2 separate regions of the Homo sapiens genome follow, and region 2 is linked to region 1. The links come from fine-mapping of genetic effects on gene expression. A gene starts in region 1. The other region holds a variant in brackets. All regions are shown on one strand. Distances are from middle to middle. Region 1 holds the start of IL12RB2 (interleukin 12 receptor subunit beta 2). Region 2 overlaps IL12RB2 (interleukin 12 receptor subunit beta 2).

Evidence for each region.
Region 2: its variant is fine-mapped to the expression of IL12RB2 in whole blood (TOPMed, PIP above 0.99).

The regions. Positions count from the first base shown.
Region 1 is chr1:67,305,287-67,309,822 of GRCh38, forward strand. IL12RB2 (interleukin 12 receptor subunit beta 2) reads left to right here and starts at 2,587. Exons shown (of 17, transcript NM_001374259.2): 1 at 2,587-2,681. RefSeq lists enhancers at 1,810-1,909, 1,940-1,989 and a silencer at 2,450-2,639.
Region 2 is chr1:67,330,885-67,334,884 of GRCh38, forward strand. The region is part of intron 8 of IL12RB2 (interleukin 12 receptor subunit beta 2); the gene reads left to right. Among named protein-coding and RNA genes, the nearest start is that of IL12RB2, 25 kb to the left of the region's middle. The variant T/C (reference allele first, on the strand shown) is at 1,878.

The sequences.
Region 1 (4,536 bases):
CCATTAGAAGTTAATAGAGCAGTGGTCTTTCAACATTTTAGATGGTATACTCCTTCAGAAAAAAAAAAAAAGCATTTTTGAGAAACATCCCCAACATATGTTTGGTTGTTTTTTTATTTCCTTGAAAAACATATGTATGCCGGGCGCGGTGGCTCACGCCTGTAATCCCAGCACTTTGGGAGGCTGAGGTGGGCAGATCACGAGGTCAGGAGTTTGAGACCAGCCTGGCCAATATGGTGAAACCCCATCTCTACTATAAATACAAAAATTAGCCGGGCATGGTGGCGCGTGCCTGTAGTCCCAGCTACTCAGGAGGCTGAGGCAGGAGAATCACTTGAACCCGGGAGGTGGAGGTTGCAGTGAGCTGAAATTGTGCCACTGTACTCTAGCCGGGGCAACAGAGTGAGACGCTGTTTCAAAAAAAAAAAAACAGAAAAACATATGTATATTTATATGTGTGTATATACACACACACACATATGCACACACAAATATATAAATTAAATTTTTAAATGAGATAGAGTAAAATGCATTTTTGAAATTATTGATTTATTAACAAAACTAAAAGCCTTCCTTCTCACTAAAAAGTGTTGAAAAATCCATGAATTATGCAAGATTGTTATAACATTTGGCTATCATAATCTTATTCTTGATATCAATCAGTTTTTAAAGTAATGAGAAGCTGCTGCATTTTTATATTTTTTAACAAATGGATTTAAAATCCACTGAACTGCTCAATTAAAAGATTGAAACAAAATAGCAAATTGTTTCCGAGTTTTTAAAAGCATTTTCTGTGATGACAATCATAAAATCTTCAGTAAGAAAAACACACAATAATGGGAACACTTCGAAATATTTGTTTTCAAATCGTCTCTTCATAACAACGTATCACTTGGTGTGAAAATTACCTTGAAGAAACAACAAATAAACCTCTGGGGTTTTTTGTTCTTCAAAAAGATCTATTAGATAACATGTACTGAGAGCCATATATCAATACAGAAAAGATCAGCAAATTTAGGATATTTGGGGTTTTTTTGTAAAAATAAAGAAAATAACTCACTTTAAGACAACTTTTAAAATCTTTGTTACAAATGATTTCTACAATTATGTATCATCTCATTACAAAGTAATATTAAGATTCTAGATTCTACGATTTAAAAGATTTTAGTAAAATTATTCATGTAGATAAATTACTAAAGCATGTAAACTACAGTATGTCACAATCCCATAAAGACAATCTACTGTACATTGTTGATTCCAAGATGTACATTTTTCATATTTAACATCTCAAACATTGAGAGCGGTTTTAAGGTAATGCCCAGAAGCGTGGTATGCAGTTGTCCACTTCTGCGGGCTCAGCAAACCTGTACTGGGCTCAGTGGACTAGAAGAAAACTCCAGAGACAACGGGGTGGGGGAGGGGGGGGGACTTAAAAAAAAATTCGATAGATAATATACATATGTTTAAAATCTAAATTTTATTTAGAGATATCTAAATAAAATCTCTAAACTAAATAAAATTTTAGTTTAAAAGATTCTAAATGTTGAGAAAGCATTGTTATTGTTTACCTGGCAGTTCTTTTTATTTCTTACTAGCGCATAAATAATGGTATATCTTATAATTAAGGAAGTCTTAGATTTAAAGAAATCTAAGCTGACGGGTGCAGAGGCTCAGGCCTGTATTCCCTGCACTTTGGGAAGCCAAGGCGGGAGGATTGCTTGAGGCCAGAAGTTTGAGACCAGCCTGGGTAACAGAGTGAGAGTCTGTCTTTACAGGTTTAAATACAGTTTTTTTCTAAGTAATATTGTCATAAATATTATGTCATGAATATTATGCAGAGCTGCCGACCCCTCTGTACTCTGGGCAGTTTTCCCTCTTGCCTGAGAACACCACTTATAACACGGGACCTATACGGGAGTGGTGACACGCCATCTGTTCAAGTTTAACTTTTTTCTCATTTTTTAGACAGCAAATACAAATGGAAGTTCCAGTATGTTCTGCCCGCACTCCAGTGGGCGGTCTTGTGCACAGCCCACTTGGGAGGCCTCGGCGCTCAGGTGTGGTAAGAGCTGGGCGGTGCAGAGCACAGAGAAAGGACATCTGCGAGGAAAGTTCCCTGATGGCTGTCAACAAAGTGCCACGTCTCTATGGCTGTGAACGCTGAGCACACGATTTTATCGCGCCTATCATATCTTGGTGCATAAACGCACCTCACCTCGGTCAACCCTTGCTCCGTCTTATGAGACAGGCTTTATTATCCGCATTTTATATGAGGGGAAACTGACGGTGGAGAGAGAATTATCTTGCTCAAGGCGACACAGCAGAGCCCACAGGTGGCAGAATCCCACCCGAGCCCGCTTCGACCCGCGGGGTGGAAACCACGGGCGCCCGCCCGGCTGCGCTTCCAGAGCTGAACTGAGAAGCGAGTCCTCTCCGCCCTGCGGCCACCGCCCAGCCCCGACCCCCGCCCCGGCCCGATCCTCACTCGCCGCCAGCTCCCCGCGCCCACCCCGGAGTTGGTGGCGCAGAGGCGGGAGGCGGAGGCGGGAGGGCGGGCGCTGGCACCGGGAACGCCCGAGCGCCGGCAGAGAGCGCGGAGAGCGCGACACGTGCGGCCCAGAGCACCGGGGCCACCCGGTCCCCGCAGGCCCGGGACCGCGCCCGCTGGCAGGCGACACGTGGTGAGTGACCAGTGACTCGGGGTCGGGGACAGAGAGAGCCCCAGGATCCCGGACCAGCGGGGTGTCTGCGTGCCCGGGATTCCGTGTCTCGCGTCTCCCGAGGGGGCTTCGGCGACGGCTTCTCTCTTTATATATATATATGTATATATATATTTTTAAAGTCTTCCAATACGATCCGAAATGGCTTCTCTTCATCACAGTCCTAACGCCCTGGGCACAGATGTTCACTTGGAGGTACTGGGTGGTGGTTTGGCTGGATGGAGGGGAGGGAGCGCGCGGACTGAGCCTCCAAGGTACTCTCTGGGCCGGGGCACAGAGTGGTGGGCTCAAACGGAAGGGAGGGGACGGCGACTGGAAAAGGGCAGAGGGCACCCCTGAGGGTCCAGCCTTGGTTCAGGCCCACAGACGTGGCTCCCGTTGCTTGAAAATGTATCAAATGTGAGTAAGATATTGGGGGGGGCCTTCCGTAGTCCCGGATGAGGGTGAACTAACCTTGTCTCAGCAGTCTTTCCTGTGGCCTCTGGACTGACCCCGAGTCCCTGCCTGGCCAGTTACTAGCAAGATGCTCTGGTGCAAGCAAATTGGCCAGCCTCAGTTTTCTCTTCTGTGAAATGCCCCTTCCTTTGTGAACTATGAGGCCCTCCTCATCTCCCTAGGACACACTAAATATCAGTGTCAGCATTGTACGGGATTATGTATCTGTACCATTAGATCCAGGTCTTACAAATAGTAACCTAAAAGCATACAAATAGACCTTGTCTAAGAACAGGGTCCCGGCACGGTGGCTCACGCCTGTAATCCCAGCATTTTGGGAGGCCAAGGTGGGCAGATCACTTGAGGTCAGGAGTTCAAGACCAGCCTGGCCAACATGGTGAAACCCTGTCTCTATTAAAAATACGAAAATTAGCTGGGCATGATGACGCACACCTGTAATCCCAGCTACTCGGGAGACTGAGGCAGGAGAATTGCTTGAACCCGGGAGACAGAGGTTACAGTGAGCCAAGATGGGGCCACTGCACTCCAACCTGGGCAACAGAGCGAGACTCTGTCTTAAAAATAAATACATACATACATATACATATATATATATATACACACACACACATACACATATATATATAAAGAATAAAGCTAAATTAGTCCTTTTTTCCCCATTTTTAAAACTCTAGATAATTGTTATAATCTGCTATGTGTGTGCTCTGTGTAGATGAACATCTTTGTTGAGCACCTACTATGTATTTGGTTTTTGGATATATATTATCTAATTCCTTAAAAACATGGTGAAATTGTTATTAGTATTCCCATTTTACAGATGTGGAAACTTACATGTTTCACACAGTTAGAGAGTTACAGGTTTCTGGCTCAAAACTGTGTTCCTTCTGTTTCCACCTCTCTGGCTCAGAACCTTATAACCACCTCCACTTGAACAAACAAACGTTGGATTCTCATTTTCCATTAATAGGAATGGTACAGTGCCCTATTTCTCTGTCCAACACATAACTAAAAGGACCTTAGTGGCTAAGAGCTAACACTTTCCTTCCCTATTTTAATGTGAAATCCTCAATACATTACACTATCTGTTAGGCACAACAGCCTCCAGAAAAGTTTGCAATATGCTCTTTTCCATATGTCATGCCTCTTGAATGTCATGTTCATTACATAGGCTGATAAATTCCCAAACTTTGACAAACGGAATCTTTTCTGTATTAGAATGAGTTTTAGTGTGAAAAAAAATTCGAAAGCACACATGTAATTTTTAAGGTAGAAGAATCCGCCAAGTACAGTAGGTATTGGGCATCATTTCTCAGTTGTGGACTTATTTTTGTATTGCTGCACCTGCTTTGTTCTCTACCAA
Region 2 (4,000 bases), 25 kb after region 1:
TGGAATAGAATCTTTAAACTACTGGTGCTGAATCAAAAAGCATGACTGCATTAGTTAACAAGTTAATTTTTATATTAACTTAAGTGCTGAAACTGTTCAAGGAAATATGTTTGTGTTGCAAGGAAATTTTTAACATTGGGTAAGTTCTACTCCTGTTTGCTATCAGTCATGTTGGTTATAATGCTTGGTTATAACTTATCTCTCTTACTATCTCAGTAACTTATTTCACAGAGCTATAACCAGTAATTAATCTCATTTCTTGTTAAAGCTTCATATGTTTTATATTTTTGATTCTATGAAAAGTAATGTGGCTCAATAAGCCATATGGAAAGCTTGAAAGAAAGTAGGCTCTGGAGACACATATTTCAAAATAAAATTTAGCATCCAGCAATCCTCTCTTGTCCAAATATTATAACACTGTACTTCAAGCCTTTGATATTTACTGCACAAATGAGAACCACCTGGCCACCCATAACTATGAAAAGGATATCAAATGTGTTTTTCAGTCTGATGAATTTTTCTTTTTTAGTAATTATTGGGAAGGGAATGTTATTGAAGTATAAGAAAATATTTTATTGAAGCAAAAATGCCTATGTAAACTTTATGCCAATATTAAATCTTTGGAGACACAAGAAATAGCCATCTGAATATTAGTTTTTAAAAGCACTCATTTAGGCCGGCATGGTCGCTCAGGCCTGTAATCCCAGCACATTGGGAGGCTGAGGTGGGCAGATCACGAGGTCAGGAGTTCGAGACCAGCCTGGCCAGCATGGTGAAATCCCATCTCTACCAAAAAGACAAGAAATTAGCCAAGCATCGTGGTGCGTGCCTGTAATCCCAGCCATTCGGGAGGCTAAGGCAGGAGAATCACTTGAACCCAGGAGGCAAAGGTTGCAATGAGCCAAGATTGTGCCACTGCAATCCAGCCTGGGCAACAGATCGAGACTGCATCTCATAAATAAATAAATAAATAAATAAATGCACTCATTTAGTGATATAGTAGAGAGTCTTTCATAATTTATATAAATTTGACTCAGAGAAAAACTTTTTGGCATATAATCCATTGTTCATTATCTGGAGCTTTTGTAACATTAACGTGCAAAATCTAAATTCTTATTTGTGAAATTTATGGATATGTGTGCATGTAAACTAGCCTCATAATTAAGTTGCATTTATTTTCTGTGAGCTACTAATGGCTTTTGATAACTGATGATCCTTAGCAATCATACATCAATGACATTCAAGGAACGGAAGGGCCTTTAGCAGAATATAATACCTAATATATGATTCATAGAATAATCTTATATTCTTCCTTACTTCTTGTATTAATTGCATTTTTTTTTTTTTTTGAGACAGAGTCTTGCTCTGTCACCCAGGCTGGAGTGCAGTGGCACAATCTCAGCTCAGTGCAACCTCTGCCTCCTGTGTTCCAGTGATTCTCCTGCCTCAGCCTCCCAAGTAGCAGGGATTACATGCATGCGCCACCATGCCCGGCTAATTTTTGTTATTTTCAGTAGAGACAGGTTTCACCATGTTGGCCAGGCTGGTCTCGAACTCTTGACCTCAGGTGATCCACCTGCCTCGGCCTCCCAAAGTGCTGGGATTACAGAATATATTTTAAAAATTGTCTAAAAGTGAATTTATCCAACAAATGATAATTTATTACCACTCATTTTATAATAAAATCTCTTAATGTTGAACCACTTGCCCTCTGGTTGTTACTTTTATAATCCAGAGCTTACTCATAATATCGTTTTATTATATATAGTCAAAGTAATTTTTTTAAAGACTATCTCATGAATTAGATTTTGTTTATATATGTGGTACAGATAAAACTTCTGAAAATGGGCTATATTTTATATCCAAGTTCAAGGTAG[T/C]AAGTAGTCTGAAAAATATTTAAGTTATATCACATTAAGCTAAACTATAAACTAGGGAAACTCTGGGCTTGTGAATTCTTGTCATTCTTACTCACATATGATAATGACCTAGTTAGAGATGTGTGAAAAGGTTTTTCTTTTCTTTTTTAAAAAGTGTTTGTCTTTTGAATTAAAATTCCTTCAAGGCAGCACAGTAACTTTCTTATTTCCTATAAAATAAACCACCATCATAACAATGAGTATAGCAACTCATTATGGTTATGAACTCATGGATGATTATGAATTGAACCTAGGAAGCTGGCTTATTCAGTCACTGAAGGTATTCATAAAGAGAGAAACCCATACTCTGAGATACACCACCTTTACCAAGCTCTGTTGGCTTCCTTTCTGTCTCTGAATCTCCCTTTTCTATGTTTGATTTTTCTGTGGGTTGTTGTAGGTCTTTTTTCTCTTACTCTAGGCTGCTTGGTTTTCACCCCTTACCCGCTGTTTCTGTCATCAGTTTCTTTATGAAACACCAACTGATGTAAACGTAAAAGGTGTGAATTTTTTTTAACACGTCTTCCTTTTAACCCTTTCAATGTGTACTCATATGTAACTTGGCATTTAAAAAAAATTAATAGTAAGCTTTTTTTTTTTTTTTTTTAGGTACTCTCTAAAACTGTGAATGACTCTACAACAGAGTCAGCCTTTTTGCAGCCTTTGCTTCTCAAAATTGAGAGAAATGTAACATCTCCGGGTGGATTGGTGTAGTTGTTTATATCATTTGAACAGTGGGTTAGGGCTTCCTTTACTCCATAGGGCCCTTTACTATGTCATTAAATTCAGCTCCTATCACTGAAAAACACTTTTTAAATGACCGAAAAGTAAGGGATAGGAGGAAAGAAACTACTTTGCTGTGTTTAAGAGAACAGTCTTGAAATCAGCATCCATCAAAGGCAGGCCTGATAGTGACACTGGGAAGAGAGCAGCCACATTTTCCTTGTAGTGGGAAAACATTCTTGAATTTGAGCTCAAGGTGTCCAGACATGCCTGAGAACATGCACAGGTATTGAGGGAAGGTGATCTCTCACCACTTAGAACACCCAGGAAGAGATGCCAAAATACTGATTAATCAGCTATTCCTTAGAGCTATGTTACCAATATGTCTCTGTCTGTTAATCCGCCATTTTAAAAAGTCTTATTTGCAGTTTGTGATCTTGCTCAACTCTATTACAGCTAACAAAGGAATCGTTGCATGTTCATTCGTACTTTGGAGGGGCAGAGTGGTAAAGGAGAAACCTTCCCCCATCATGGTGACAGCAAGGGTGAGGGGTGAATAATCCCTAAAGGGGGAGAAAATGAAGAGTTACCAGCTGCAGCCACCTCTTCCCACATTGAGAAGCTAGGAAATTCATGCACTCATTTGTAATTTAAAAATATTGCCAAGATAAGATAGGTGTGAACAATTAAATACTAGAGATTATTTTGGATAGCAAACATTTGATAACAGTCAAGCTTGGTGGATTGGCAAACATTTTCTCTACAGGTCCAGATAGTAATATTTTCAGCTTTGCGGATCATACGATCTGTCGCAACTGCTAAATGTGCTATTGTCACATGCAAGCTGCCATTGACAATACCTAAACAAACAGGCATGGCTGTGTTCCAACAAAACTTTATTTATGTATGCTGAAATTGGAATTTTATGTAATCTTCACATGTCACTAAAAAGGATTCTTCTTTTGTTTGTTTTGAGACGGAGTCTGGCTCTGTCACCCATGCTGGAGTGCAGTGGTGCGATCTCGGCTCACTGCAAGCTCCGCCTCCCGGGTTCACGCCATTCTCCTACCTCAGCCTCCCGAGTAGCTGGGACTACAGGCACCCCGCCACCACGCCCGGCTAATTTTTTGTATTTTTAGTAGAGACAGGGTTTCACCGTGTTAGCCAGGATGGTCTCGATCTCCTGACCTTGGGATCTGTCTGCCTCAGCCTCCCAAAGTTCTGGGATTACAGGCATGAGCCACCGCGCCCGGCCGGATTCTTCTTTTGATTTCTTTTCAACCATTATCAAAACCATTTTCTTACAGGATGTATTAAAACAGGCAGAGGGCCAGATTTGGCCCATGGGCCGTAGTTTGCTG